4 separate regions of the Homo sapiens genome follow, and all the other regions are linked to region 1. The links come from fine-mapping of genetic effects on gene expression. A gene starts in region 1. Each other region holds a variant in brackets. All regions are shown on one strand. Distances are between the middles of the regions. Region 1 holds the start of ECHDC1 (ethylmalonyl-CoA decarboxylase 1). Region 2 holds the start of KIAA0408. Region 3 has its middle 22 kb from the start of RNF146. Region 4 overlaps MTCL3 (MTCL family member 3).

Region 1 (8,113 bases):
GGTCTTGCTTTTGCCTAGAATATGCCGTTAATCAGGTATGAAGATACAACCCAATGAAGCAGATACATGTGGGGCAGAGGCCCCAATTTCCACCTTGATAACTTTAGAATAAAAGTGCTAAAGAAACTTGGTAAGGACTTAGATAGTTGCTTTAAAAGTTTTTTTTTTTTTTGCCTGTCTGCCATAATCCTCTGTTTAGAGGAAGAAACAAGGAGTTAATCTAGAAAATAAGGAGGAGGGACTTATAAAAGCATTAGCATTTTGTGGGAAAGTAGAATCAGTAAACAACATATCTTCTGCTCTCATTGTAAAGGGTCTGTCTGCTCTGTCTTGATACATTACCCCTCTCTCCAACATCAACACTACAGCAATTAGTATGAACGCCATCAGATCTATATCCTTTTATCCTCAAATCTTTAAAACATTAAATATTTAAGTAATAGTAGTATTTTGCCTCATTAGACATCTTTGATCCATCACTGAAATGCCAATTTTTCCAAGAAAATCTTGTAATACTTCATGTATCCTTTCTCTATTAATTCCATATTTTCTATCTTCTCTCATTCTATTCCCTCCCACTACTGTCTCTCCTTTTCTCTCCTCCTCTTATATTCCTTGTCTGTGCCAGAAAAACCTGAGAACACTGCTTAAGCCTGCTAGATTCACTGACCCCAAGTTTAGAAATCCAATTCTAAAAATTTTATAATAGCCTATTATGTACACTTTCGTCCCAGTTCTAAATTCAGAGACTATCTTAGACAAAAGCTCAGTGATGAGATGACAAGGTGTTAGTCATTATTAACCTACTATAGTATCTAATAGTATAAAGTGAACAAAGCTTAAGATTCAGGTTCTGTAGAAGTATGTAGTTAAACGATTGGTTTTTTTTGGATTTCTTCCAGAATCACAGGAAGATGAAAAGGTTCTGAAGCATTTACAATTTTATAAGCTTTCTTCGGGGTAAAACTTATGTTTAAAACTTGCCATGCAGGATGTCTTGCAGCCCCACCACAAAGAAGATTCAGTGGAGCTGAACAAGCTCACTACCAAGCCACTGAAAAGAGGAAAGAAAGTCCATCTGAGATCAAAGGTCGCACTTCCCATTTTTTTCAAGTTCTGCAAAGGTGATCTGTTTCCCTTTAGTGCACAGGAAATAAGTGAGATGTTCTCTAAAAGCCTTTACCTGTTTCACCTTATACTGTAATCACTAAATCCAGAAGACTAACGCAAACTCATACTTAAAAAGAAAACAATTAGCCTAGAGCACGTAATAGAAATCAGAAGCATTTGATTTCAGACTGTCTGTATATCGCCTGTTTGTAAAAGTTCTGATTCGGTTGTAGGCTGTCATAACATAAACTACCTTTCAAGGTTCATTACATGCCACCCACAACTCTCTCCCTCACACAGCCAAAATGCACAACTTTCAGTTCCTGAAATCCTTTTGATTTTTTCGCCATCTCAAGCTTTCGCATATGCGATCTACCTGTTACATTTTTGTCTTCCTCAGAGTAACTTCAAATCATCTCCTCTAACATAGGACTACATAAAGTCCCCTTATTGTCTGCTCTCAGAACATCTGTATCTCTCATCACCACTCTCACTCACTCTTTGCTGTAATTAGTTTTTTAACCAGTTCTTCCCATTAGTCTTAGCTGCAAGAGGGCATTTGCAGTGCCTAAAGATAATATTCTTAAGACTAAACAGGGGCTTAAGAATCTGGCCACAAATCAACTCTCCAACTACCCTGTTTATAATCCTCACAACTCACCCTGTTTCAATGCCATGCTTCTTCACAGGCTGGCTTCCCTTCCTGGAATGTTAATCATTGCAGGAATCCCAGCTGATTATACAGTCGCCTTTCAGGCCAGAACCCAATAAAAAATCAAGAAAGGATCGCCCGTTCTATTACTGCGCTGCTCCCTCCCCTCGTAGATTTCACAAATATACTTCTCACCACAAGCTTGTCTGTTCCAAGAGAATGCTAGCTCTTCTAAAGAAGGAGCCCTTTGTTTTCCTTGCCCTTGTCCAGTTCCTCTGCATACCTCTAGCACCTAGAGCAACAACTGCTATACAGGAGCCCAGATGTGGAACAGAGCAAAGAACTGAGTGTTGATTTAATGTTGCCTGAAGTCCTTAACAGCACCTTCAACCTAAACTTAACTGTGTTTTTAATCCCCTACACGTGTAATCCCTGTATGTGTGCGCAGCGTTAAAAGGATTATTGTAGCTCAAAAATTCTCCAATGAAAGAACCTCTACCAGAAAGGAGTTGCTCATCTTTCGTTCTTGAAAAGTTGGCTGCACGATACAAGTAAGAAAAGTTTTAGTTAGGCAAGACAACTTATACATAAAAGACAATTATAGGGAACATTACCTAACTTAGCACAGGGCCTCGAATGTATTCCGAAATTAAATCAGCATGTAGAAAGCAAGCCTCCTCATGCTTTTTAAAGTGTAATCTCGCGACCTCGCGGCGCGCTCTGGGAAGACCGATTCATCTCTTCCCCTCGCCCTCTTTCCCCGGCCGGCGCACAGCCGGCCCGTGGCGCTCGGCACCGCGTCTCCACGTCCAGCGCGGGGCAGGCCTGCGCGGCGCTTGCAAGGGACAAGCCGCGGAGCCGGGGAGGCTCGCCGTCTGGGACACGTTTGGAGAAGCGAGCGGTACAGTCCATTCCACGGCGACATTTTAGGATTCTCCCACTGACAACACTAAACTGAAGCGCTAAGACCAACCCTTACGACCACTTACCGTCGCAGGCCACGGTGGTGACTTCCTTTTCCGCTCCCCTACACACGCTTTTCCGTTTTGCGTGCCTTTGTTTCCGCTCCCCCCGGGACCATCGTGCGCCCCTGTCCTCCGTTCTTGTAGGTCCTCTCCTCTTCTCCGCGTCTTCTCTTTTACTATCCCACGCTCTCCTTTCCTTTCTCCGGGAACTTTATCCCGTTCCCCTGCCGGTTCCCGTGACCCCGGAAATCCCGCTCCTGCCGCGAGGCGCCCTCCGCTTCGCGCTCCCTCGTGTCACGAGGGAGCCAGGGTGGGCGGTCTCCTATTGTACTTGGCTTTTGAATTTTCGCTTTTGCAGCACAAAGGTAGGGCTGGGAAAGGAGGCTGCCGAACCGTGCTTGTTTTCGCTCAGATAAACGTGAGAAAAAGTGGAGGTGAGGAAGCCAGTGTAGGCAAATAGCGAGAGGGGAGAAGACAGAAAGGTACCGAAGGTCGACCTTTTTTAGGTATCTTATCCAAGTTATTGAGGGGAATGGGTATTTAGCCAGTTTTTTGTTTGTTTGTTTTTATCCGAATATCCAGTGTGTGTCTTGAATGTGTGAATGTGACGTGTTTATAAAGCTCAGTAAGCTTAAAATTCCGTGCCAATACATTTTGTATGCCGCAGACAGGAAGTGCTTTGGAAGACCCTTGAAAGGGGAGGTGATTTTACACCAATATTGAGATCATTTTGTCAGAGTCGTGGGACTAAAGGTAGACCTTAGGTAGTCGATGTCAAAGATAAGCGCAGCTGGACGTTAAAGCGGTGAAAACATTCAGTTAACTACTGACAGGAAAGAGCTGAGCTCTATTTCGATTCGTGCAGAGATCATCTGGGCATTTTTAAAGGGACGTTTTAAAAGGAGAAAGGGGATATGCGGGCGCTCAGTAGAGAAAGTGAACCTACAGAGTTGTTAGTGTAAATGTGATTAGGCCAGCTGTGTGTTTGTGTGTGCGCGCGTTTTAACAGTTACCGCAGGATTCTATCCTCCTACGGAGGATTTTATCCTTCTCGATTACATTTCAAAGGAATGACTCTCTGGTCCTTGAGAGAGAACTTCTGAGTGGCAAGAAATAAGTCTTTACAATTGCAAGCCCTTTAGTAAACGTTCTAAGAAAGGGATGTCAGAGACCTATCATCAGTTGTGTGCTGGTTACATCACGTAGTTAAGCTTTCTGAGGCAGTCGCCCTGGGCACAGGGCCTTATGCTGCTAAAGCTTGCTAGAGTTTGGTCAAGTCTCTGAACGCAGGGGTTTAGATGGGATGGTCATGTTCCTGGAGTTCTGCAGTGGTCATAGGTATGATTTGAATAAGTACAGGGAATATTCTAGTCGGAGGAACAGAATGTGCCAACGCGCCGAACAGGGAGGATAGTTTTACGATACGGAGATGTGTATGATAGGGAATAAGTGGGAGCCCAGTTTGGACTAATTGGAAGAAGTCATTATTAGAAGTACTGTATTTAATTCTAGTTTGTTATAAAATGAGACTCCAAGATCACTGAGCCATTTCACTGAGACTCCAAGATCACCCCAATGCTAGGCTAATCTCCATGGCGCCTAGATCTATGCCCACTCCATTCCCCATGTTGGTCCCCATAGTTTCAGGCACCAGGCTCCAACACCAGGTTGGGCCCTACAGCCCCAGTCTCCAGGTTGGCACCAGTGGATATAGGCTTTAGGTCCACTGACTGCTGGTCCCTACAGCCCCAGGTTCCAGTGAACCCAGGTTCCAGGCCTGCTCCAACAAACCCAAGGTCCAGGTCTACCCCAGTAGACCCTGGCACCAGAACTACCCCAGAGGGCCTAGCCTACAGGCTACCACCCACAAACCCAGCCTCCATGATGGCCTCTGAAGAATCAGGCTTTAGGTCTTCCCCAGCACCAGACTAGACTGCTAGACTGATGTTCCACTTTTGTCCCCATGGACCCAGGCACCAGGCCCATCTGAGAGGTTTCTTCAGTTTTATTTTTCAGTAATAACTTTCATTCTTCTTTCTCAGTGATAACTGTAGTACTCAGTGGGCTTTCTATTTCTGGCTCCCATTTTCCATCTTTCTTTTTAACACTTTGGGAAAATATCCAAGTTAAACTCTATATAGTGGGGTAGGTGGACAATGAAAGATAAGTAAATACATAATATGTATAATCAACGGAGTGAAAAGACAGCCTGCAGAATGGGAGAAAATATTTGCAAACTATATATCTGACAAAGGGTTAATATCCAGAGTATATGAAGAAGTCAACTCAATAGCCAAAAAAAAAAAAAAAAAAATCCAATTTAAAAATGAGCAAAAGGCCTGAATGGACATTTCTCAAAAGAAAACATGATGATGACTAACAAATATATGAAAAAATGCTCAGCCAGGCACAGTGACTCACACCTGTAATCCCACACCTTGGGAGGCCAAGCAGGTGGATTGCTTGAGCCCAGAAGTTCAAGACCAGCCATGGGCAACATGGCAGAACCCTGTCTCTACAAAAAATCACAATTGGCTGGGCAATGTGGCATACACCTATAGTCCTAGCTACTCAGGAGCCTGAGGTGGGAGGATCACTGGAGCCCAGGAGCTTGAGGCTGCAGTGAGCCATGATCACACCACTGCATTCCAGCCAGGGTGACAGAGCAAGACTCTCAAAAACAAATACATACATTTTTAAAAAATTAAAAATAAATAAAAATAATCATAGGGGAAATGCAAATCAAAACCACAATGAGATATCACCTCATACCTGTTAGAATGGCTATTATCAAAAAGACAAAAAATAACATGCCCATGCATATGTGGAGAGAAATACTTATACACTGTTGGTAAGAATGTAAATTACTGGCCAGATGCAGTGGCTCACGCCTGTAATCCCAGCACTTTGGGAGGCTGAGGTGGGCGGATCCCGAGGTCAGGAGGTCAAGACCATCCTGGCCCACATGCTGAAACCCCTTATCTACTAAAAATACAAAAAAATTAGCCAGGCATGGCAGCACATGCCTGTAGTCCCAGCTAAACCTGGGAGGCAGAGGCTGCAGTGAGCCGAGATCACACCACTGCACTCCAGCCTGGGTGACACAGCGAGACTCCGTCTCAAAAAAATAATAAATAAACAAAAGAATTTGAATTACTCTAGCCATTATAGAAAACAGTATAGAGGTTCCTCAAAAAATTAAAAACAAAACTGCCATATGATCCCACAATCCCACGCCTGGGTATATATCTGAAGGAAGTAAAATCAGTATGTTGCAGAGATATCTGCACTCTCATGTTTATTGCAGCACTGTTCATAAGAGCCGAGATATGGAATCAACCTAAGTGTCCATCAGTGGATGAGCGGATAAAGAAAATGTGGTATATACATACAATGGAATACTATTCAGCCATTAAAAGGAATGAAATCCTGTCATTTGTGGCAACATAGATGGACCTGGAGAACATTAAGTGAAATAAGCCAGGCACAGAAAGACAAATATCACATGATCTCATGCAGGTGTAGAATCCAAAGAAGTTGATCTCATAGAAGTGGGAAATAAAATGGTGGTTATCAGAGGCTGAGAAGAGATTAATCAGTGGGTACAAAGTTACAGTTAGGAGGAATAAATTCTGGCGGTCTATTGCACAGTAGGATGACTGTGGTTAACAACATTGTTTCAAAATGGCTAGAAAAGATTTTGGTTGTTCTCACTACAAAGAAATGGTAAATACATGAGGTGATGGTTTTGCTAAATAACATTAAAATATCACCATATCCCATAAATAAGTAAAATTGTTATGTGTCAAAAATGAAACAAAAATATATAATGTTGGGGGGTATTAAGTGCTATGATGACAAGTAAAGCAAGTTTGGCATAATTTTGGGAGTTGGCATATTAGGTTAAGGTAAAGCCAGTTACTTTTGTTATGTTTATGAATTCCTAGGCCTCTTGACAAACACTGAGGTTCTCAAACATTGGCAAACACAAGTCACATTAGGTAAACATACAAATTCTTGGCCTTAGTTCCATATATTTTATTCTGAACAAATAGCCCTTAAGTCAAAATTGAGAAACAATGATTAGTAATAAGTTTTTACACTTCAAGTATTTCCTCATTCTGAACAAAGGATGTCGACATGTATTTACACACTTGAATGTTTCAACACTACCGTGTGATGTGATTTTACTTTTTTTTTTTTATATATTTCAGCTTTGAGTATCATGTATTCTATTTTCAATCTGTTGTTTGTGGCCTAGACTCAATGCAATAAGTTTTTAAGGGGTTTTCTCTCTGAAGCACAAAATACCTTTTTACTCTAAAAAGCGGGGATGGGAAGAAGATAAACCAGACTCAGATATTATGATTTTCTTCACTTGTCCCTGGTATGAGTTTTATGAAAACATTTGTAACCCAATCACAGCTATCTTTCCCCTGAAACAACACGTGCTTTAGACTGAATTGGTTATAGTTCTAGGTATGAGAAAGAAATATCAAAATGTTATACCACAATGTATATCATTTATTGTTGCATTATATTCTATCATGATAATTTTTATTAATGTAAGCTTATTGAGTTCAAATGCCTTGTTAGCCTTATTTTTCCTCCTTCCCATCCTTTCTTTTTTTCCTCCTCGGTTCTTTCCTCTCTTTATTTCTTTTGAGAATGTAGTTAAATTTTTTTCTTAAAAAATGCCATAGAAAAAAATACTAGAATGAATATCTCATGCTGTTAATAGTTATCAGTAGTAACTTGGGGGAATGTAGTGTTTGTTTTGTTAGTTAAATATACTTGGTTTTCAGATTTCTCAAAATGAATGAGAACACTTAATAACATGGTAAAATGTTGAAACTATAGTATTACTTTCAAAAAGGCTATCTAGAATGGAAGAAGGGTGATGTCAGAAAGATGGCAGTATAGCACTTCCCAGTACTTGTCCCTTCACAGAAACATCTATTTGAACCACTATCCTTTTTTTTTTTTGAGACAGAGTCTTGCTCTTGTTGCCCAGGCTGGAGTGCAATGGCGCAATCTTGGCTCACTGCAACCTCCGCCTCCTGGGTTCAAGCAACTCTGCCTCAGCCTCTTGAGTAGCTGGAATCACAGGCACACGCTACCACGCCGGCCAATTTTTGTACTTTTAGTAGAAACGGGGTTTTGTCATGTTGGCCAAGCTTGTCTTGAACTCCTGGCCTCAGGTGATCCACGTGCCTCAGCCTCCCAAAGTGCTGGGATTACAAGCGTGAGCCACCACGCCCGGCCTGAACCACTATCCTTTTATGAAGACACCTTCACATGAACTGAGGAATCCAGATGAGAAATTATAGCACCTAGATGTAGCAGAGAATTAAGAAAAGACACATTGAAGATAGTAGGAAAGAGT
Region 2 (8,113 bases), 110 kb after region 1:
TATGCCAATTCATATTTTATTCACAGTCAATTACATGGCTGTTAATAAGAAACATGACTGTACTATAAACACATAAAGCACTTACTTTGCCTGCAAAAAAGGCCAAGAAGTCTTAAAATAACAACTTTGGTAATGTGCATAAAACCATATAAAGTCAATACTAAGGATGTTACCAAAAGAAAGCAAGATAAGCATAAATTATTTCCAATTGGTGCAAAAGCTTGAATATACATCAATGCAAATGCTTGAAGGAAATATTTCAGGGTCAACGGACTGAGGGAGGGTTAACGGGAACAAAATGACTGTGTCAGAGTCGTGATATGTCATTTTTCATAACTCCTTTTCCAATAAATATGCCACTAAATGTGCACACCTTGATAGAATAAATCTCATGTCTACTGCCATTTTCTGTTTGATATATGATACTCCTTTTGATTATACTGCATTATCTAACATGTAATTTCCTTTAATAGACATTACTCATAAATCTTCTTAGGAAAGATCTATGTTCTAATGCCCAACTATAATTTTGCTAATCTATGTCCCACCAAGTATATCTTTCTTGCATTTTACTCCTGGACCTGGTATTTGAAAATTCATGCAAAATACATACCTCACTTTTGATAAAAAAGCTCTCTAGCCAGAAAATAATAAGTTGAAACATTATAGAGTGACATTTCAAATGCTTAATTTTCATGCAATGATATAAAATAATCCTTACAATACCATTGGATAAGATTATGCTATTTTTGTTCTAGTAAATGTCACTGAGAAATGTACCTCTTAGGTCGAATAAGGAAATCAAAAACAGTTTCCAATACAAAACAGCCCACAGAATTTTCATCCTGCACTTAAACATTACAGTATATCCAAAACAAATTAAAGTGTACCTCTTCTATTTTCTTCTGCATAATCTTCCATTGACTTTCCCATTCCTTTCTTTCATTGTCAAACTGGTCCAGTAATTCCATCTTTTCCTTATGCCAGTTAGTCTCTGTGTTCTCCCACTGCTTATGTAGGTCCATGGCAACAGTGTAAGTGTCAGCAAAGAAGTGTTTCTGCTCTTCTCTGCCTCCTCTTAACTGTTTCTTGGAAGCTTGAAGTTGTTTTATTTGAAGCAGTCTCACTTGCCTTTAAAATAAAGCCTAATATAAACATAACAAGAGAGAGTTCCAAATCCATGTGCTTTCTGGAAATATATTTTATCATTTTGTCGAGCCATTGACATAAACAAACTATAGGAAAATTGGACTCAAAAGAAAAGAGATGACAACAGTCTACTTAAGAAGAAGAAACTAACACAGTCAATAAAGTAATAAGTATTGTCCAAAGTTTTTTTCCCTTTCTGAGACCAGACAGCAAAATTATAGTGGACAAGATGATTAAATGCGCATGTGAGATGTAATCATCCCTTTAACCACTTACTCTAAAAATAGATTTTTTCATGAATAAGAGTGTAAGTATACAATTCAAATGTATGCTCACATCTACACACTGTGACAGATTCTGCTGCAATAAAATTATTCTTTCTGTTCTGATGCAACCTGATTATATATTCTTATGACTTAAATTCCTGAAACAGAGCTGGTTTGCAGTCTTAATTCTATATTCAGAGATCAAGCCTGTGCCAAATGTCATTACTGTGTTACTTATGAAGACCCCAAAGTTGGTAGTCAACTTAGGACTGATGTATCATCCAGAAACTAATCTAAATTATAAAAAATATATTCATTATGTCACTTCATCAAGGAAAATCTAGAAGCATCAAAACTATCCTGTGAAATATACGTTAAAATTTATCCATGCTCTCTTTTCCTTTGAATAGGCTATATACCATAAACTGCTTAGGATATTGAATACAGGGAACTGAAGAAAACATTTTGCTCAGTTTTCAGGGAATCCTCTATTACATTAAGTAGTGACTGAAATAATTAACTTTCTAGCCTTCAGGGACGTGTACTTAAGGTTTGAAGTCAGAATTTAAAATACCAGCTATGTAACTGGTATAAGTCTAAAATTTCTGGGATTTAGTTTTTTGCATTAAAATGGGGATAGTCATAGAACTGTTAAAAAGATTAAATGGCATACTGAATGCAAAGTAGTTTGAGAAATTTAAGAAAGTTTTCTATTTTTTGCTTTACAAAATTTCATTGTGACTTCAATTAAAAATAATTTTGTATTAAATAAGTCATGTGCCTTTTTAGGGGGTAGAAAAGCATGTTTAAAATGTTTGAATCTCTGTTTAAGATAATTATGCCTATAAGATGTCTAACTCTTCAGTCACTAAGCCATTATCAAAATGCTATAACTTACTGGTGGCAGCTAATGCTAATTACGGACAAAGATCCCAACAGTCAATAGCTTTGTGGGTGCTGGCACTGCCGAATTAAGGCCACATACCCAAGCAGCAAGTGCCAATTTTGTATTCACAGAAGATAACTGCATATTTCAAATCCTAAATATCAGCTAAATATCGAACACTAATTTTATTTTTGTCAGACTGTTGTGAACATACATATCTGACTAGTAAACAGTTTTGAATCTGTATTTTTTGAGTCACGATCAATGAATTAGAATAGAATAAGAAATGAAAAATGTTAGCTATATATGCAGGGTTCTACCTTCAAAACACCCTAATAATTTTGGGATCTATATTGTTACTTTACTCTCAAACTATTTACTAAAGATATTTTGATAATTTTTTCCTATGTCTTTGGCACTAGCACTATTATGATTAATTCAGTCACGAAAAATACATAATTTCATATCTGGCTATTAAAGGTGCTATCATATCTCATTTTATCCATTTGGCCATGCTCAATTTCTGACCTCATTTCTCCACCTCCTCTGTCACCCCTTTCTTTGCTATCTTTCCCACATATAAACCAGTAACCACAAGTACTTGCCATAATAAATGTCAGTGAAGAACAAATAAAATAAAGATGGTAAAGAACATACAGAGTTTTGGTTTTTGTTTGTTTTGGCTAATCTAATTTCCATTGATCTTGATCTTGAATACCTAGTAATCTTTTAGGTTCGTCTAACAATTCTTCATAGGAAATGCAGACAGTGCCTGTCTTGAAACTAGCAGACTGCTTTAAAACTATACGTAATTAACTGTGTGGTGAAACTACCTTGCTGACTAGAAAGTATTTGCCACTGGAACTTCTTAGGAAGAATGGTGTGGTTTGAGATAATAAGAGATAAATGCAGATTTAACCAAAGAAACTAAAAAAGGATGCAGACTAATTTCAAGCTACCTGGAAAAGAGGAGCTATGATAAATCCATGTTTTATCCCAACTGTCTTTAAACATTGGAAATGTTCAGAAATCACCATAAAGTCTTTTCTACAATTATGTAGCAAATGGCTCCAATTTTTCCTTCTATTCCTAACTCTTCTTGAATCGCTTCCATGCTACTGTTGAAAGATGCCAGGCCTTTCTCTTTTTAACCTACCGGAAGATCATTCAGGAATACCCTAGATCAGTCTTGCTCTTGATAACAAGACTATATCTAAACCCAGGTAACAGTCCTGAAGCAGACCGAATCCTGCACCTATTTGCAAAGAGCCAAACTCATCCCTTAATATGGAGAAGGACCAATGTATGGAGCTTTTCCTTTCCAGGCCCAGAGCAATTGCTAGTGCCAAGAAATGTAATAGTTATGGATCAGAAACAAGCCTTTGCAAGAACATTTCTATAGAGCAATATCTGTGCCAATTTTTTGTGGAAGGATTTGGCCTTCTTAGCATCTCAGTCTTGTCGTAAATATAATGTTAGATGTAACGCAGCCAAACATATTGCTTCCACCTCTAAATATAAAGTGGTGGGGGGGGGGCATAGAATTGTTTTGGAGATTAAGTGAGCAAAAGGGAAAAATGCTTAAAAGAAGTGCCTAAACACTGCTCTGGATCATAGCAAATGCCTGAAAAATACTTGGTTCTTGTTTTCTTCCTTCTGTCCTTTGTTCCCTCCCTTCCTCTTCTTGTCTTTCCTCCCTCCTTCCCTTTCTCCTCTCTTTCTCCATCTATCCCTCTCCATGTTGTTCTCTGGAAAAAAAACAGATTATTTTGGTCTTTATTTTAAAACGAGATAGAAGCAAGTGTAATTGTGTGAACTCTCATATTCTCCATGATCTTCTTTTGCCTTTTTTCAAATATTTTAAAGATACATGTCACATATTTAAAGAAAAAAGTTTTATTGTTAATAAAAATGTGAACAAATCTTATGTAAAACTGCTTTTGTTATAAATCTGACTTAAATATTACAAAAAATATCAAACTGAAGGGGCAACTTTGTAGAGATAGAATGTTTCGTAATGAGAAGTTATGGGGTAAAGTGGTTCAGCAGATTCAAAAACTCAATTTAAGTGCTCTCTACTGGGGCAAAAATAAAAGTTCTTTTTGTTCCTAGTTGTCACTCATTTTCTCCCACAGATACTGGCATCTATGTGGGAGAGAAGGAAGGATTTCTGCTATCTGCATCCCCTACCCCATATCTCTTTGGCTCTCCAGTTTATGTTCTTCCTTCTAGAATTCCATTTCAGAATAAAAATTTATTAGAGCAAATGTAAGAGGACAGAGTGAGCTGCATTACTTAGTCACACACCCCAACTCTAAACCAGCATTGCATAATCCCTTTTAACTTACTTCCCCTTTCCAGGGCTGAAAGCCAGAATTATAAAGAGTTGTGAGTGGGTTGCATAAGTATGGTGATGGGAGGCAAATAGTTCTGCTAGCCTTC[C/T]GGCCCTACCAGTAAGCAAAGTTTAAGAGTAACACACAAGTCTCACAAGAAATTATTTTCACCCCCAAATTAGCCTCAGTTTGGTCATGGCAGCAATTCTTTCTCTGAGGGGTGCTCCATTCTTAGGACACCTGGGTCACTACCCTTTCAACCTCCAACTCGCCCATTGAAAACTGGACTGCATCCAAACAAACTAAACAGCGTTCCTTAGGGGCAGCTGCTCCATTGCTACTTCTCTCTTTTTAGATTATTGTTTAGAGTACTTGTTTCTTGCTGTCCTTATTTCCTTTTGCTAAACATATCACTTTTCACATAATTAAAGATTTTTCATTTATAAGAGGTTACATATTCCAATAGAAATGCCACACACAGTAGGTACTGCTAATCTCACAATTCCTAGAAGACTCATTTGGCCTGAAGATGTTTTGCTTCTGCTTAACTTTGATGGATTAGGAATTCCCCAGCTTATAACCTATCAGAGTAATGTACCATTTACCTCCTAAATTCTCTATCCCTTTCTCCAGGCTATTATAATCACTTGAATTATTTCAATGAATTAATAAATCTCATTCCTCTCTATTGTTCACTTGCAATTGAATCTTTCCAAAGACCACCATGATTTGATTTTGTTAGAGTAAAAGGGAAATTTTTTTCATTGCTGTGTATTGCTGATTTAGCACATTCCTCATGCTCCAACAAGGTCAAAGAGACACTACCACATGCAATTCCGAATGAATCAACTTTACCGTTTCATTTAATTATCTTCTTCCTTGTTTTCTTTACAGTTATTTACTCAAATTAGAAAACATCCAAGCTGTATGCACACTGATTTTACTTATAAAATGCAAACTTTAAAAGCAAACATTTGGTTTGAGTAAACAAATGTCTAAAACTAACCATCGTGAACAAAAGACATAGTGGTAAGTTTCCCTCCTAAACGTAGATTATTCAATTATGAATGGCATAGACTTCAGCTCAAATTACAGAAACACTAACTCTACAGTGAGTCCACCACCACCTTAGATAAAACTAAAATTTATTTTTCACCGCAATTTTCAAATACCAAGTCTCCAGGATTGTGACCTTTAATTTGCAAATGTTAAAAGTCTTTATATGAATAAAAAAAATCACATTTGAATAAATATACTTAGTGAAAATCAATGATGGGCAAAGTGCTTTTCAAACAACTGAGAAGCAGTGTTGGAAAAACAGTCTCAAAGAGCGGATGGTACTGTCAGTCCACAGTTGGGAAATCCACCCTGAGCAGCTGAACAGCCTTTTTCCTAGGAGTCAGTACAATCTGTTATGCACCCCGCCCACTGTTTTTAAGCCCAGACACAGACAACAGCAGAGACAGATGTTGAAATTACACTCCACTTAAACAGTATCCATAGTTTAAAACATCTCAACAGCAGCCCCTTTGTATCCTGCCATAATTAGTCACTTGCTTGTAAACTTGCCGGAAAGAAACATACCTTTCACACTGGGGAGAAATCCTATGGATGCTCGACCACTGGTCAATTAGCAGTGGAAGAAAGTGGATGGCTAGCTGTCTTAAAGAGAAAAGTCTCAGCTCGGTGAATCTCGATTCTTTACAAGAAAAGGGGATGCAAAATAAGTCCAACCATTCCACAGAGCAGTACTGACAAGTCCCTTTGAAACCTTCACCACTTTTACAAGTCAAAAAGCTGCTCAGCTTAGTGTCACAGCAGCAGCTGAGACTACTGTGACGTCAGTTACTTGGAGGCGGCCTTCAAGCCACCTCTTCCAACCAGAGCTCTGTAACTTTAGAGCAGCTCATGCTCTGGGTAAACAACTCCAGGTCCAGGACATTTTTAGCTTTTATAATGGAGCCCAGTATTTTCAAACTTGCCAAAAGAGCTGGTTGTTAACATCATACAATGACAATGGCCAATTTTAGATTTATTTTATTAGGAAAGTAAACTCATTTTTTTATAGGCAAGAATTATCTCCCTCCTTCCATAATTCTTTCTCCTTCTCAGCTGGTGGCAGGATGTACTCTGCTGCACCTTTAGAAGTTTGCATCTGGATGTGGCAGAACAATATGTGTAGCATAATTATATATATTATGCACTCTCAAAAGATCTGTGAAAGTTATCAAACTTCTATCTTCAAATAAAATAGAAATGGAACATAAAGTCCAACCTCTTAGCTCTCTGTGATTCTGACAGTGTGTTGCTTTTATCTACAGTAGTAGCGATGTCTTTACGTTAGAGAAAATCAGAGCCCATGGGAAAGGATGAGATTTCTTATTGTGGGAGGACAAAACACACACACACACACACCCCAAAAATGAGATACCTATGGGCTTATTTTCCACTAAAGTGTGCTGCAGCCATAGGAAGAGAAAGCAGCCTAAGTGTATGGAAAAGCTCTCTAAATCATGATCAAATCAGCCTGTTCTGAAATGCTAGGAGATCTTGCCTCCCCAGCGACATTTTCAGGTTTATTGTGGCTTTGTACACACATGCATCTGATGATATTTGGTTTAATTTAGTCAAAAAAGTCTCTAGAGCAATTTTTTGCCTAACTTAGCAAATACACAAGTTTAAACAATAAGGTCTTATCTTCAAGTCTGAAGAGCTTCCCTGGTGTGGTCTTTAAAGTAATACATATTCACTCACATTATTTTCACCTGCTTCCAGATAAACATTTCATGAGGAGCTAAAGTTTAGTAATAGTAACCTGCTCACAGTAGGACTTTAATACATGTAGGACAATCAAATGAAACCATACTCTGTGTCTGGAAAGCCTGACATCATAATCTCAACAGCAATAACAACAATAACAGTGATAGTTATAGTAATAATAGTGATTATTCACTGAGGGGCAACCCTCTGCAAGGTTCTGTGCTAAGTACTTTGAACAGACCTTTATCTGAGTTCACCCTCAGAGCAATTCTGTCTCTAGATACTGATAATCTGATCTTACTGATAAAACCCAAGCAAGGCTCATTGTGGTAAAGCATCATGCAAAAGTTCATAGAAATGCACCCATGTGGAGGAAACGGGTTTGAACTGTTTTGTCTGATTGCAAACCATGGAATTTTGTCATAGAGATCTAAGTTTCAATTCTGCTGCCACCACTTATCTGTGTGATCTTGCAGACCCTGATTCTTCCTTAAAGACATAATTATATTTACTTTAAGAGGCCATAAGAATATGAGGGAATATATATAGCGCCAAGCACACAATAAAGGGTAGCTCATGTCTGCCTCCATGCTTATGAGGCTAGGAAGAAGATTCTTTGAGAGAGGGAAAGGGAGGAGGGAGTTGCACAAAAACATCAATACAGAATTGTCTTAACATTGTTTCTGGCCGGGTGTGGTTGCTCACACCTGTAATCCCAG
Region 3 (8,113 bases), 100 kb before region 1:
GCAGATCTTTTGTCATCGTATATCACTGGATTATCTAATCTTTCTATTTCCATTCTCGACCCTATTTTCAATCTCTTGCTCATCAATGCCAAACAGATTATTATTTATCACTATCTTCACCATAATACTATCCTGTTCAAAACTGATAGTTTTCTAATGCTTACATAATTAAATCAAAACTTTAAAAAATTTGAGTTGCCTTAAAACCTCTACCACAAAACAAATGTTATCTACTAGTAGTATTACATTCTGCCCACATTTCAAAACCCTACAGAATGTGTTTCTAACTTATTTCTGCTAGTAGTGACGGCCACAGATTTAATGGTATTAAACTAAAATATGGTTAGCTCCCTATTTTTAAACATCTACTCATCAGTATTTGAATGCTGCTTTAAGGGATAATTCTTCTGCTTTTTGATCTATCATTTATTGAATGTTCATTATTTGCCAATTGCTGTACTACATAATACATATATAACATATATGCATATTACATATATTATAATATGCATCTGTAATATATATTTGTAATATGTAGTATATGTCATATGTAATATATATAACACTATATATTACATATGTATATTATATTACACATATAATATAGGTTATATATGTGTTAAAGTACTTTACATATAATAAAATGTTAATTTTAATACAACACTGTATAGTAGATTCTATATCCATCTCCATTTTATGGTTGAGAAAATAGACAATTAAAGACATACACCAATATACACTGTAAATATATCACGGGACTTAAGATGTGTATATGGTTTCTCTGTTTCCAGAGTTGATCATCTTAACCAGCATGGGCAATGTAAATAGAATATGTAAGTGGGTAATGTAGAAAATATAAAGGACGCAACTTTTATTTATTTATAGAATCATATTCTATAAATAAATTCTATTATAATTCAAGCAACAAAAAGTAAGTAGAAAAAGGGTGATGTATGTGATAAAGAGTAAAAGCTCCAATGACTACTTAATAGTCATGTAACTTTACATACCATTGCATCTCTTACATACCACACCACTTTTTTCTAACTTTTAAGTTTAGGGGTACATATGCAGGTTTGTTATATAGGTAGACTTGTGTCATGGGGGTTTGCTGTACAGATTATTTCATCACCCAGGTACTAAGTGTAGTATCCGTTAGCTATTTTTCCTGATCCTCTCCATTCTCCCAACCCTCTGATTGGCCCCTGTGTCTGTTATTCCCCTCTATGTGTAATGTGTTCTCATCATTTAGGTCCCTCTTATAAGTGACAACATGTGGTATTTGGTTTTCTGTTCCTGCATTAGTTTGCTAAGGACAATGACTTACAGATGCATCCATGTTCCAGCAAAGGACATAATCTCATTCTTTTTTTATGGTTGCATAGTATTTCATGGTATTCTACTTTTTAACTAATATATCTAACTACCATTTATATAAATACTGTTTATTTAAGTACCATTAAATATATAATGCAAAAAATAGTTAAAATTAAATAATAAATTTTTAGAAGTACAAAAGGAGTAAATAAATGCACCATGTCATTCTTAAGTCATAAATGGTCAATTAGATCAAACATTATGAGTATAGGGTGTACCTGAATAATTTTATAAATAAGATTCATTTAATAGCTATGTATTGACTAAATTCTGCAGAAATTACACTGCCTTTTCAAGCATCTTTGTAATATGAAAAAAAATTTTGAATGCAGGATTTTGCATTAGCAAAACCTTAACAGAATGAAAAAATTGGTACAGAATAGACATAGATATAATGTGACACTAAGCAAATGATATTCAAAACATATGCCCCTCCTTAAAAAATTATTTATAGAGAAATCAATAGTCTTAAGTGTCTTTATTAAATTAAATACAAGGCTGGGTGTGGTGGCTCATGCCTGTAATCCCAGCACTTTGGGCAGCTGAGGTGGGCAGATCATTTGAGGTCAGGAGTTTCAGACCAGCCTGACTAACATGGCAAAATCCCGTCTCTACTAAAAATATAAAAATTAGCCAGGTGTGGTGGCATGTGCCTGTAATCCCAGCTACTCAGGAGGTTGAGGCAGGAGAATCGCTTGAACCTGGGAGGCAGAGGTTGCAGTAAGCCGAGATCGTGCCACTGCACTTTACCCCAGGTGACAGAGCAAGACTCCATCTCAAAAATAAATAAATAAGTAAATATTATATACAAAGTAACAAGGAAATAAGGGTTTACATCTAAGAAATTAGAAAAAATGAATAGCAAATGAAAAATAAGAAAGATGCTGAGCATTAAGGCATAGGGAAAATAAGAAAATAAATAAAAAGAAAAATAAGAAAGATACAGATGAAAGGAATTAAGAAAGCTAAAAGTTGGAATTTTTATCTCAGTAAAAAGATGAAATGGCAGAATTGGAAAGCATGAGAAGAGCATGAGCAAATAAAGCCAGCAGAGCTGGTACAGGTGCTTCTCTCTGACTATAAACATAGAAAATTGTGGAAGAAATAATTTTTTAAATGGCTTAATACAACTCTTAACTTGAAAGACTCTAGGAACCATAAATGAAGTGAAACAATGATAGAGAAGGAAGATGAATCTAATATCCCAGCCCATGGAGTATTCAACCAGGTATTTCAGTAAGGCCTGTTATTCTAAGGCAAACAAGCTGACTGAAGTATGACAAGGTGTCTAAACAGTGAAAAAATCTTCACACACTTCTCTCAGAATATGAGAGTCAAAGCAGGTAAATTTTTTAAGGATAAGAAGTTTTGAGCAACAAAATTTATAATTTAGAGAACAATTAGGGAATGCAGATTCTTTCTGAGCTCAAATGAGACATTTTTTAAAGCTGACCAGTTTCTAAGCCACAAAGTAGTCTCAACGAATGCCAAAAAACTGATAAGGTATATACCACATTTTATAACTACTTGGCTCTAAAACAAAAGTACTAATGAAAAGATAGCCTTAAAAAACAAGCAAACCAACATCTTAGTGGAAAACATCTGGGCATTTAAAAGAGCAAAGTTCTGGACAGGCCATGAGTCAAAGAAGAAATCATAATGGACAGTGGTTATTATTAAACATTAAGTCATGAATTACAATTAAACTCCCATATAGCAAAACTTGTGCACTGTAATTAAGGCAGTTTTTAGAGAAAAATGTAGTCTTAAAATGCATGTATTACAAAATAAGAAAAACTAAGAATTAATGAATAAATAATCCACCCAATGACTAAAAATAATAATAGGGTAAATCCTAGAAATAGAGCAAATAGAATAATAAAACTAAAATCAATTATCAATTAATATTAAAAACAAAGATACAAAACACAGAATAAAATAAACCAAAAATTGTTTTTGAAAAAACTAATATAATAGAAAAATCTATAACAAGTTTGATGAGAAAGAGAGAGAGAGAGGAAGACAAGCAAGAAGAAGGGAAGGACAGAAGTAGACAGCAGTAGAGTTGTGCTGGTAAACCTTCTCTCTCTAGGGTGGGGAATAGGTTCCTATTTATAGGGGTCTCTGATTTCCATAGTGTAGATCCTGCCACAAATGCTGATTTTAATCTACCAACATGATGCCACTGAATGCAAACTGGGGAGAGATTCATAGACACATGGCTCTGGGCAGCCAGAACAAGTCAGCTCCAGCACACCACTGGAAAGGTCACAAAGAAATAAAATTAGGGTGGAAAAACAGGAGCTAATGGAATAAAAATTTAAAATATTATAAGAATATTCAGAATAACTCCGTCAATATAAATGAAAACTTGGACAAAATGGACAATTTCTTAGAGAAATGTAACTTACCAAAATAGATTCCAATGGAAACCTGACAAAAACAAAATTACAGCTAGATAAGAAGAATAAGTTTTAGTGTCCTGTAGCACTGTAGAATGACTATAG[T/C]TAAGAATAATATATTATATAGTTTCAAATAGCTAGGAGGAGGATATTGAATGTTTTCAACACAAAGAAATGATAAATGTTTAAGATGATGGATAGGCTAATTACCTTGATCTGGTCACAATTTATTATATGTATCACAACATTGCTATGTACCCATAAATATGTACAATTATTACATACTGGCACATAAACATGTGCCATTTTAAAAAACTTTTTTAAAAACCAGATCATTAAGATGGTGAATTAATAGCTTAAATAGTGAAGATAGTGAATTAACAGTTTAAAATACACCAATTACTTAACAAAACAAGCAAAATAAATGGGCCCATCAGATTTTTAAAATGAGCGTTACCTAATTTTATTTTATTTTAATTAATTAATTTATTTATTTTTGAGAAGGAATCTTGCTCTGTCACCCAGACTGGAGTGTAGTGGTGCACTCTCAGCTCACTGCAACCTCCGCCTCCTGGGTTCAAGCGAATCTCCTGCCTCAGCCTCCAGAGTAGCTGGGACTACAGCTGCACACCACCACACCCAGCTAATTTGTTGTTCTCTTTTTGTACTGGAATTACTGTTTGAAATAAAAGATCAACCCCAAATTATACAAACAATTTAAGAGGATATAACAAGAAGAAATTTCCCTGTAGTGATCTCATTTTGTCAGGCCAAGATAGCCTTTACCCCAGAATCAGACATAAATACTATGAGAAAGGAAAATTTTAAGTCGGTGTCACATAGGCCTCTAAATAAAATCAGCAAATGGAACCCTTCAATGTTTGTCCATATGTCTCCATCTGAGTATACCATAACTAAGTTGGAAACATCCATATCAAAAGTTTTTTTGTATCGGTAAATCTATTACTGTAATTTCCACATTAACAAATTAAAAGAGAAAAATGATATGATGTCTATAGGTACAGAAAGCATTTTTGATAAGTTTCAATAATCATTCATGATGATAACAATAATTGTAAACTCTTAGCAAACTAGAAACAGAAAAGTATTAGCCTGACCAAAACTATATATTAAAACTTTTAATAAATATAATATCTTTAAGGAAATTATAAATGTTCCTTTTAAGTTAAGAATAAGACAAGATGTCTGCCATTACCACTTGTATTCAGCATTGTACTAAAGGTTGTAATCTGTATAGTAAAATAATAAAAAGAGACAAAATGAATATAGAATAGAAAGGAAGAAATATAAACTTATTATTTTTAAGTTATATTATTGTGAATACAAAACTTTTAAAGACCTAATGAACAAATTAATTAAGTACAATAAAGTTGCTATGAGACCACTATAAAAAATGAATAGGGTTCCTTTGCAATAGCAATAGATCCCATTCACAATAATTTTAGAAATGTTAAGTCACTTCGGAATAAATCTAAAAAAATAAGCAAGATATACAATCCAAATTATTTAGTGATATAAGCCCTAAATAAATAGAGAGTACATCATGTTTGTGGAAAGGATGACTCAATATTTGAAAGCTGTTATTTCTTCCTAAATTAGAGTTGCCATGTTTGGCAAATAAAAATACAGAAAAGCTAGTTAACTTTTGAGTTCAAATACATGAATAATAATTTTTCAATATAAGTATGTCCCAAACATTATTGCATACTGTTGAATAAAAAATTATTGCATAGGATAAACAGGCAGATAAATAGACAGATAGATAGATAGATACATACATACATATATACATAGATACTTATAGACACGTAGATAGATAATAGATTGAGATGGAGATAGTTATATATAAATATACAGATATACAGTCATGTGTCACACAACAACAAGGATACATGCTGAGAAATGCATCATTAGGTGATTACATCATCTTGTGAACATCATACATGAACCTAGATGGTATAGCCTACTACACACGTAGGCCATGTAGCGTAACTTTTTGCTTCTAAGCTACAAGTCTGCACAGCATGTCACTGTATTAAATATTGCAGGCAATTGTAACACAATGGTATGTATTTGTGTCTCTAAGCATAGAAAAGATGCAGTAAAAATACAGTATTATAATCTTATGGGACTGTTCTTGTGTATGCAATATGTCATTGACTGAAATGTCATTATGTGGCACAGGAGTGTATATAAAATATGTTTACTTGTATTTCAAATTTAACTGGGCATCCTGTATTTTATTGGGCAACTCTAAGCTAAATTAATCTATCAATTCAGTACAATCCCAACATAATTTTTTGTAGAATTTAAAAATAATTCTAAAACTCACATGGAAGAGTAAGGCATGTAACATATAAATACGAAAATTGCTTTTCCAAGAATAATGGGTAGTTTTTTGCCTTAGACCTGTATGTTTAAAGAGACACTTCTAGGAAGTCTAACCCCAAACACAGGAGTATCTTTCTCAAAGATAAATTCAATATTTCACCCCGGACTCAGAAACCTTAGCTCTGTTTATAACTGCATTGGCCTATTGATTCCTTCCAGGTTGCAACAAGAGGGGAAAGGAGAACCACCATGTCACTGGTTCTTTCTTTAATTCATATTCTCTTCTCTTTCTCTCAAAGAATCAGAGTGCTTCCAAGTTGATGCAATAAAATACAAATATAAAACTACTCATTATAATTGAAAATGAGTCATGGCAATCATTTGACCTCAATAACCACATTTCAGGTGTGATCCTGTCCTATTCCCTACCCTGCTATTAGATGCAGCATCTCATGAGAAAAGTAGACCAGATAGACAGTTGATATTGGTAAGAAGGTAGAATTATTTTACAGCTCTATCCTGGTAGATAGGTGAAACCTAGTAACAGGAAATTTGGGAAAATAATATGCTTACCTAAATGTGCAATCATGGGTAGAACTTGTATCAGTTAGGATTCCTTAGGTGCAAGAAACAGAAATCAGCTCGGCCTATCAAGCACATAGGAATGCATAAGAGGATTGGAGAATATAGGACACCTTTACACAGTCTTAGGATCAGTCCTGAAGAAGTCATGAGCCAAAGTATCTCTGGGGAGAGGAGAAACTAATGGACAGTCACGGCCAGCTGGGATTAATCATCACAAACTGCTTTCTCCATCTTTTTCTGCATTTCACATGAGCTCCAAATTTCAAGGAGAGAAAAGCATCTGATGGTATCACTTGGGTCACATGTCTATCCCTTGGCTAGGAGAAATGGGGACATCTTGATCGGCAGTTCTATGGCTGCCAATAGTGAAGGAGTAGCTTTTCCAATATAAGTTCAGGGCATCATTTCAAAAGAAAGGGAAATGAATTTTTGGCAGGCATAAACAACAGATGTCCACTGCATGACTGAATAACACAGATTTTGGGAAATGCATCCATGTAGAGCAATGTTATGATTACCAGTTGAACCTTGGTACAGAACCCCTCATTTTGACAAAAGAAACGATTCTCTCAAGATGAATCATTCTGGGAAGTGGTTAATAGTAGATTAAGAAATGAGGTGGGCCTTTATCTGGGGGAGGAGGGGTCTTTCTTCACTCTCTGGGGCTGGAGGCATTGTGCTGAAACCAAGATGTTATTCTAAAGCTGCCCCTGACCACGGTGGCTGCTGAGTACCTCTGTTTACTGTGCAAGTAGCAACAACAACAACCATGAAGAAGGATAAGCTACTTTTTGGAGCTTCCAATATCCATGACAGTGTTTGTGGAATCCTCCCATGTCGAGAAAAGGTACCTCTGAGTGAGTGGTGGATAACTGGTACATGCTGCTCCCCACACTCCAAAAAAGAAAAAAAAAAACGACACTGCCCTCCCCATCAAAAAACAAAACAAAAAATAGTCATTTGCACTGCAGGAGAAAGTTTTTGTTGCCCAAGATCAAGATGAGGTTTCACTACTGGTGAGCAGGGGAGAATCTGGCCAGCAGAGTAAACTTCAAGAGAATCAGCAGCAACAGTAACATAGTATAGATGCAAGATGAGAGTGCTAGAGTGAAAGAAAGCACTTCTTCCAGAGCAACTTCTAAACTCTACATATTCAGTGAAAATCCATTTAACCATTCTTGTATAATAAGGTAATACAAAACCTTATTACATACAAAAACACTAAGAGGAAAACAGAAATACATATATGTGTGTGTTTGTGTGTATATATATATAAATAAATAATAGTACAAGGGTGGTGGCCAGTTTTCAGTCTTTTGTTCATGTATATACATATATACATATATACACACATATATGTACACACACATATATATAAAGTTTTAAATCATGTTTTA
Region 4 (8,113 bases), 150 kb after region 1:
AGTCTATGTCAGTTCAATGAGGAAACAGCCACTGTAGCTTTATTTCTTACCTAGATTTGTTTTGGAAGCGTTACTAAAAGTCAATAAATGATAACAGGTAAACAAAAGCCCATTTGAAAAGGTCTACTTTAAAAGTAGACCTTTAAAAAGCTGGAATATAAAATGGAAAGAAGCTGGAAAAATAAAAATGTCTTAGGCTTTTCAACAAAAAGACTAAAGAGTCAAAATTGTATGAGCTGAAAAGTATTTAAAACAGGACATATCACATATAGCTGGCCCTCTGTATCTACAGGTTTCACATCTGTGGATTCAACCAACCACAGATTGAATTTTTTTTAAGTACAACAATAAAAAATAATGCAAACTTAAAAATGATACAGTAAAAACCACTATTCACATAACATTTACATTGTATTATGTATCATAAGTAATCTAGAGTTGATATAAAGCACAGGCATACCTTGATTTATTGAGCTTCACTGTATTGTACTTCACAGATACCACAATTTTTACAAATTTAAGATTTGTGGAAACTCTGCATTGAGCAGGTCTATTCGTGCAATTTTTCTAAAAGCATGTGCTCATTTTGTGTCTCTGTGTTACATTTTGGTAATTCTCCCATTATCTCAGACTTTCTCATTATTATTATATCCATTATGATAATCTGGGATGAATGATCTTTGATGTTACTCTTTCAATTGTTTTGGGGCACGATTAACTTCACTGATATAAATTGGCTAACTTAAATGTGGTGTGTGTTCTATCTGCTCCACCAACTGGCTGTTCTCCCATCTCTCTCCCTCTCAGGCCTATTCCCTGAGACACAACAGTATTGAAATAGGCCAATTAATAACCCTACAATGGCCTCTAAGTTTTCAAGTGAAAAGAAGAGTCATATGTCTCTCACTTTAAATCAAAAGCTAGAAATAATTAAGCTTGGTGACGTAGGCATGTCCAAAGCCAAGATAAACCAAAAGCTAGGCCTCTTGTGACAAACACCTAGGCCTCTTAGCCAAGTTGTGAATGCAAAGTAAAAGTTCTAGAAATAAATTAAAAGTGCCACTCTAGTGAACACACAAATAATAAGAAAGCAAAACAGCCTTATTGCTGATATGCAAAAAGTTTTAGTGGTCTGGATAAAAGATCAAACAACCCACAACATCCCCTTAAGCCAAAGCTTAACCCAGGGCAAGGCCCTTACTCTTCAATTCTATGAAAGTGAAGGAAGAGAGGTGAGGAAGCTGCAGAAGAAATGTTAGAAGCTAGTGGGCATTGGTACATGAGGTTTAAGGAAAGAAGCCATCTCCATAGCACAAAAGGGCAAGGTTCAGCAGCAAGTGCTGATGTAGAAGCTGCAGCATGCTATTGGGAAGATCTAGGTAAGATGATTGGTGAAGGTGGCTACACTAAATAATAGACTTTCAATGTAGATAAAACAGCCTTCTATTGGAAGAAGATGCCATCTAGAACTTTCATAGCTAAAAAGGAGAAGTCAATGCCTAGCTTCAAAGCTTCAAAGACAGGCTTTCTTGTTGGGTGCCAAAATAGCTGATAATTTTAAGTTGAAACCAATGCTCATTTACCATTCTGAAAATCCTAGGGTCATTAAGAATTATGCTAAACCTATTCTGCCTCTGTTCTATAAATGAAAGGACAAAGCCTTTATGACAGCATCTCAATTTACAGCACAGTTTACCAAATATTTTAAGCCCACTTTTGAGACCTACTGCTCAGAAGAAAGGATCCCTTTCAAAAGATTACTGCTCGTTGATAATGCACTTGGTCAAACAGGAGCTCTGATGGAGATGTGCAAGGAGACTAATGTTCTTTTCATGCCTGCTAACACAAAATCCATTCTGCAGCCCATAGATCATGGAGTAACTTTAACTTTCAAGTCTTATTATTTTAAAAATGTACTTTATAAGGCTATAGCTGCCAGGTAGTGATTCTTATGATGAATCTGGACAAAGTAAATTGAAAATCTTCTGGAAAGAAATGGCATTCTAGATGCCATTAAGAATATTCATGATTGGGCCAGGCGCAGTGGCTCACGCCTGTAATCCAAGCACTTTGGGAGCCTTAGGCAGGTGGATCATGAGGTCAAGAGATTGAGACAATCCTGGCCAACACGGTGAAACTCCGTCTCTACTAAAAATACAAAAATTAGCCTAGTGTAGTGATGCGTGCCTGTAGTCCCAGCTACTCGGGAGGCTAAGGCAGAAGAATTGCTAGAACCCGGGATGCAGAGGTTGCAGTGAGCTGAGATCGCACCATTACACTCCAGCCTGGGGGACAGAGCAAGACTCCATCTCAAACAAACAAACAAACAAACAAAAACACACACAAAAAAGAATATTCATGATTGATTGGAGACGGTCAAAACATTAACAGGAGTTTGGAAGAAGTTGATTCCAACCCTCAGGGATGAGTTGAGGGGTTCAAGACATCAGTTGAGGAAATAAATGTGGTGACAATAGCAAGAGAACTAGAAGTATAGCCTGATTGTGATTGACTTGCTGAAAGCTCCTGATACAACTTTAATGGATGAGGAGTTGTTTCTTATAGATGAGCAAAGGAAGTGATTTCTTGAAATGAACTGTATTCCTTGTGAAGATGATATGAACTTTGCTGAAATGACAACAAAAAGTTTAGAATATTCCATAAACTTCCTTCATAAAACAGTGGCAAGTTTTGCAAGAATTTATTCCAATATTTTAAGAGATTCTACTGTGGGTAAAATGCTGTCAAACAGCATTGCCTGCTACAGGGCAGTCTTTCATAAAAGGAAGAGCCAACTGACGTGGCAAATCACATTGTTGCCTTATTTTAGGGAATTGTCATAGCCACTCCAACTTTTGGCAACCACCACCCTGATCAGTCAGCAGCCATCAACATCCAGGGAAGACCCGCCATCCAACTAGATGATGACTTGTTGAAGGCTAAGATGATCCTTAGGATGTTTTAGCAATAAAGTATTTTAAAATTAAGGTATATACTTTTTTTAGATACCATGTTATTGCACACTTAACAGACTACAGTATAGTATAAACATAACTTTTACATGTACTGGGAAACCAAACAATAGTGTGACTTGCTTTACTGCTGTGGTCTAAAACAGAACCTGCAATATCTCTGAGGTAGGCCTATAAATGGGAATATGTGAGTAGACCAGCCTGGGCAATATGGTGAGACTTTATCTCTACAAAAATTTTTTAAAAGTTAGCCAGGCATGGTGGCATGCAGCTAGTCCTAGCTACTTAGGAAGCTGAGCCAGGAGGATAGCTTGAGCCCAGGAGTTCGAGGCTGCAGTAAACTATAAACCCACCACTATACTCCAACCTAGGTGACCCTAGACTCCAGCAAGACCCTGTCTCAAAAAAAAAAAAAAAAAAAAAAAAGATGGACTCTACTTCCGTACCTCTTCTAACTGAACTGGCCTTGTGACTTGCTTTGACCTGTAAAATCTGTTGGCAGAAATGGCGTGCTGGTTCTGAGTCTACCCTTGAGAGATTGTACAATTCTGCTCACTCTCTCTTGGAAATCTGCTACCCTGTGTTTTAAGTCTGGGCTGGCCTGCTCCATGAAAAGTCATGTGGCCCAGATGCTCCTATTGCCCTAGTGAACAGCCAGTTAATCCTCAATGCAGAGCCTTCTAGCTGTTATCTGACCATAAATACATGCATGGACCTACCTGAGACCAGAATGGACCACAGAATTATGAGCCACATAAATGTTGTTTTAAGCCACAAAGTTTTGGGATGGTTTGCTACACAGCAAAAATCCACTGACACATCTACCAAAC[A/G]TTCTTCACCCCGGGATTAAAAAATACACTAGGCTAATAAATTTAGTTCAGATTTATAAACAATATCCTGTATTCAAATTCCATAAAAGCGAAAAAAAAAGAATGTAAAAGGCTAAGAGGAAGAGTTGAGAAGGTTATCAAACACAAGAAAAATAAAGCTTAATGTATTTTCCTTGTTTTTATTTCTCCCCTGCCTTTGCCACTATTTTGATTCCAGAAATTTTTTATTTTTAAGACGGAGTCTCACCCTGTCGCCCAGGCTGGAGTGCAGTGGCCCGATCTCGGCTCACTGCAAGCTCTGCCTCCTGGGTTCACGATGTTCTCCTGCCTCAGCCTCCCTAGTAACTGGGACTACAGGCGCCCGCCACCACACCCGGCTAATTTTTTGTATTTTTTTAGCAGAGGCAGGGTTTCACCGTGTTAGCCAGGGTGGTCTCAATCTCATGACCTCGTGATCCACTCGCCTCGGCCTCCCAAAGCGCTGGGATTACAGGCCTGAGTCACCAGGCCCAGCCCCCAGAAAAATTTTTTAATGAAACTGAGCTTAAATAAATTATTTTTAAAGTTCACTTTTCCAGTTCTAAATTGCAGATGCTGCCCTTACTAATAGCAGGTGTTCAATTAGCACCAAAGGTATATAGGAGTTAAAAGCTAATAAATTTCATCCTAACATTTAAGCTTATTATATATGAAGTGTTTCTTCTATTTGAACTTAGCTTTTATTCTTCATTTTTAGGAAGAAGTGATATATACATCTTCACAATGCCTTTATCTATGCCTCTGATTTATATTTGTTCATCCCACCCTTAGTTTTAGCAAACTTTGTTTATCATTCTGTTTCTATAGTTTTCCTAGGCAAGAGAAGAACAATAACTTTAAATATTCCAAAATTTCCTACTTATGTAAATTTACAGAGTTGAAGCACAAATACAAAGTGAACTATACCCAGAAAATTATCAATTTTAATTTAAGGATTCGATTTTCCAAACTTACAGTGATAGTTTAAAAAGCCAGACTTTAGAAAAGAATAGAGAAGGGAAGAAAAGAAGCATTATTAATTCATTGATTCTAATAAATAATGTTGGAAGATATGGGAAGGAAAGTTGATTGGCAATTTAAATCTGGAAATTGTTTCCAGAAGGTAATAATAAATTTTAAAAGTCCTGGATTTTTCACTTTGACTCCCTTCTAAAGATGGTCATAGAGGCACATGTCAGAGGTGAGGAGGTATATCTGGCATACAGATGTTTATGTCATGAAGGCAGAGACCTGAATTTGCCAATAAATCAGCCAGCCCTCTTCTGCTAGACAGCTAAACCCTTTCTCCATCCCATAAGGCCAGGTACCGTTCCTATCTTTTGAGTTATGAGGCTGCCAAACTTATTTCATCCTATCTCCAGTGAATGCCTAAATAAAAGCAAATTTTAAAAGCTGAGAAAACTATTTTTCTGCTCTAAAAACTGATACAATGCCAAACTAAAATAGCTGTGATCATGGTATTATTTTGTTTTATTTTTTTAAATTAAAGAATCCAATAAATTTTCCTTTTCCTAGTTCCTCTATTCTTTTCCCATGTGATAAAGTAGATACCTACAGCAGAGCTCAGATTGACGACAGAGTTATGTGAATTCTTTATCGTTAAGGAATATTAATGAGTCAATTTGTAGAGCATACCCTTGAACCAGGCTACCAATAAAAGAGGAAACTTTTAAGTCTTTTTTGGTGTGGGAATCAGAATTATCTTCACAGGGCCAAATAGGTTTGCATGGCCCTTCAGTTGTACAGTGTCTTTTTAAGCCATTCTTTGGTGCCAGGAATTACTTTAGAACATATCTGCCCTTTTCCTAGTGTATTATTTGGTAATAAAGCTTAAATGTCTTTAAATTGGAACCCATGCTTTGTAACTATTAGTGGCATTAAACTTAAAATGGCAAAACTGCAATTACTTTTGCACCAATTTAAGTGTACAGTGAAATTTAGGTACATCAGAAACTTAGAAAGTAAGATGCTGAACTTAACTCTAGAAAATATAAGAGAGCTTAAAAACCATAGGATATCAGAAAGAAGAAAAAAAAATAGAGGCTTCTCTTGTTAATGGGATGTGGTTACAACAGAACTGGAGGAAATAGCACTGACAAAAAACTGTAACAGTTGAGGCCTACAAGATCCTTGTGAAAACATCCCCTTTAAAAGTCAGGTTAGAACTCCATATGGGCTGCCTTGCATTATGTAGTTCATATCATATGATCAAAATATTTCCTGGATCCTTAGGAAGAATTGGCCTCTGTATTTTCTAAGCTTCTCTGGGATTCATCAAGGGACTCAAGGCTACCAGTGAAGTAGTTTATGATACAATTAACTCTTTCATCATTGTAGAACCTTCTTTTGGAGCAGGGTATGGGTTATTAGAGGGTCTGTCAAACTGCCAATAATAAACTGATCACAAAGCAAGACCACCTTGCTTTAAAAAATCAAAGCCAACATGGTAAGTGCTTCTTTAATATATCATGTATTATACTTGGTTGGCACCATGCAAAAGCCTCAGAGAACTCCACCCAAGCAAATGGATTTAAGACTGGGATATTTCTCAGCTTAGAGTTTTAAAAAATCTGAGAACCTGGTGGCTCACACCTGTAATCCCAGCACTTTGGGAGGCCGAGTCGGGCAGACCACGAGGTCAGGAGATCAAGACCATCCTGGCTAACATGGTGAGACCCCGTCTCTACTAAAAATACAAAAAAGTAGCCGGGCATGGTGGTGGACACCTATAGTCCCAGCTACTAGGAAGGCGGAGGCAGGAGAATGTCATGAACCTAGGAGGCGGAGCTTGCAGTGAGCCAAGATCAAGCCCCTGCACTCCAGCCTGGGCGACAGAGCATGACTCCATCTCAAAAAAAAAAAAAAAATTATTTTATATCTTAGATCCACAGTAAAGATATGTTTATTAAACTATGGATGACAACAACAAATGCAGAGATGTATTCTAATTTACTCTTGTTAATGGATTGGGTTCTAACCATCATTGCATTGAGTAATTAAAAGACACTTAGAAAATTATGTCTGGGTGGTGACCAGAGTTCCTTAAGGCCTTTGTTTATAATTCAGGCAAAGAAAAAAAACTGTGGCCAACATTTATAAGGTGAAAGGATGAGCTGTCCAGTCTATTCTACACTGCATCTCAACCAGCTTCGAACTCATTAATGCAGTGAAATTAGCAACATTGTTCTATCAGGATTAGAATCTTGTAAGAAATATGCTTGAATGTGCCATTACAAGATGGCAGGACACTAAGGGGTGGGCATTACATGAGTGTTTTAAAATTATTCTTTACACAATTACATATTTAAGATATTTCATAATACAAATTTAAAGGTCAGAGTATTCATTAATTTCCAAAATGCACTGAAAGGATATAGAAGCACTTTTCTGAGGGTAATTCCTGGACTGGGTTAAATGTGATAGCCCACAATTACACTTTAAAATTTTTGGAATTAGTTACCAAATTTAAAAATGTAAACCATTTACATTTGAAAAATCCAAATTTCCAGTTTCACTTGAAACACTTGAAGAACGGGTAAAGTTGGGTCTAGATTATGGCATGGCAACGCTGGGTTAAATTGAATATTAAGACATACACTCTCGGCTGGGCATGGTGGCTCACGCCTGTAATCCTACCATTTTGGGAGGCTGAGGCGGGTGGACTGCCTGAGCTCAGGAGTTTGAGACCAGCCTGGACAACATGGTGAAACCCCATCTCTACTAAAATACAAAAAACTAGCTGGGGGAAATAAATGCATGTACACAAGAGCATGAGATACCACTGCCACAGGAATAAAATATTCCACATATTAATGAAGTTAAGGAAAGTAATCAAAGATGAACCAGACTTATTTCCTAAAGTAATATTTTTTAAAGAAAATTTACCCTGTTCATATTGTTACTCAAATTGACAGAATTCTGAGTTAATATAGTATAAAGCTATCATTTACTTCTGATTAAAATATATCTGAAGGCCAAGACAAAAACGTAAACACAGTAATATCAAAAACTAACATGGTAGTCAAGCATTAACCAGAATCTGAGAAAATTTTTTTTTAAAAATAACATCAGTGAAATTCAAACAAGAAATATAAGCTATCGAATGTATGGCCTTCAATGTGTGAAACAGAAGGATTTGACATGCAGACCAATGAAAACTAGAAATCCTGTTTCTTAAAAGGCTAAATGTAAATTTGCCATATGACCCAGCCATTCCAATCTTAGGTACATACTCAAGAGAAATAAAAACATATATCCACCAAGGACTTTCAC

What was found. PIP is the estimated chance that this variant, and not a neighbour inherited with it, causes the effect.
Region 2: its variant is fine-mapped to the expression of ECHDC1 in whole blood (TOPMed, PIP 0.92).
Region 3: its variant is fine-mapped to the expression of ECHDC1 in whole blood (TOPMed, PIP 0.98).
Region 4: its variant is fine-mapped to the expression of ECHDC1 in whole blood (INTERVAL, PIP above 0.99).

The regions. Positions count from the first base shown.
Region 1 is chr6:127,340,585-127,348,697 of GRCh38, forward strand. ECHDC1 (ethylmalonyl-CoA decarboxylase 1) reads right to left here and starts at 3,025. Exons shown (of 6, transcript NM_001002030.2): 1 at 2,752-3,025. LOC105377994 (a long non-coding RNA gene) reads left to right here. Exons shown (of 4, transcript XR_001744334.2): 4 at 903-1,075. RefSeq lists enhancers at 2,310-3,183, 4,058-4,931.
Region 2 is chr6:127,452,957-127,461,069 of GRCh38, forward strand. It overlaps KIAA0408, which reads right to left and starts at 6,433. Exons shown (of 6, transcript NM_014702.5): 1 at 6,219-6,433; 2 at 891-1,145. The coding sequence starts at 1,025. SOGA3-KIAA0408 (SOGA3-KIAA0408 readthrough) reads right to left here. Exons shown (of 13, transcript NR_174482.1): 8 at 891-1,145. The variant C/T (reference allele first, on the strand shown) is at 4,744.
Region 3 is chr6:127,240,793-127,248,905 of GRCh38, forward strand. No RefSeq gene overlaps it. Among named protein-coding and RNA genes, the nearest start is that of RNF146, 22 kb to the right of the region's middle. The variant T/C (reference allele first, on the strand shown) is at 3,885.
Region 4 is chr6:127,488,505-127,496,617 of GRCh38, forward strand. The region is part of intron 4 of MTCL3 (MTCL family member 3); the gene reads right to left. The region is part of intron 4 of SOGA3-KIAA0408 (SOGA3-KIAA0408 readthrough); the gene reads right to left. Among named protein-coding and RNA genes, the nearest start is that of MTCL3, 27 kb to the right of the region's middle. The variant A/G (reference allele first, on the strand shown) is at 3,803.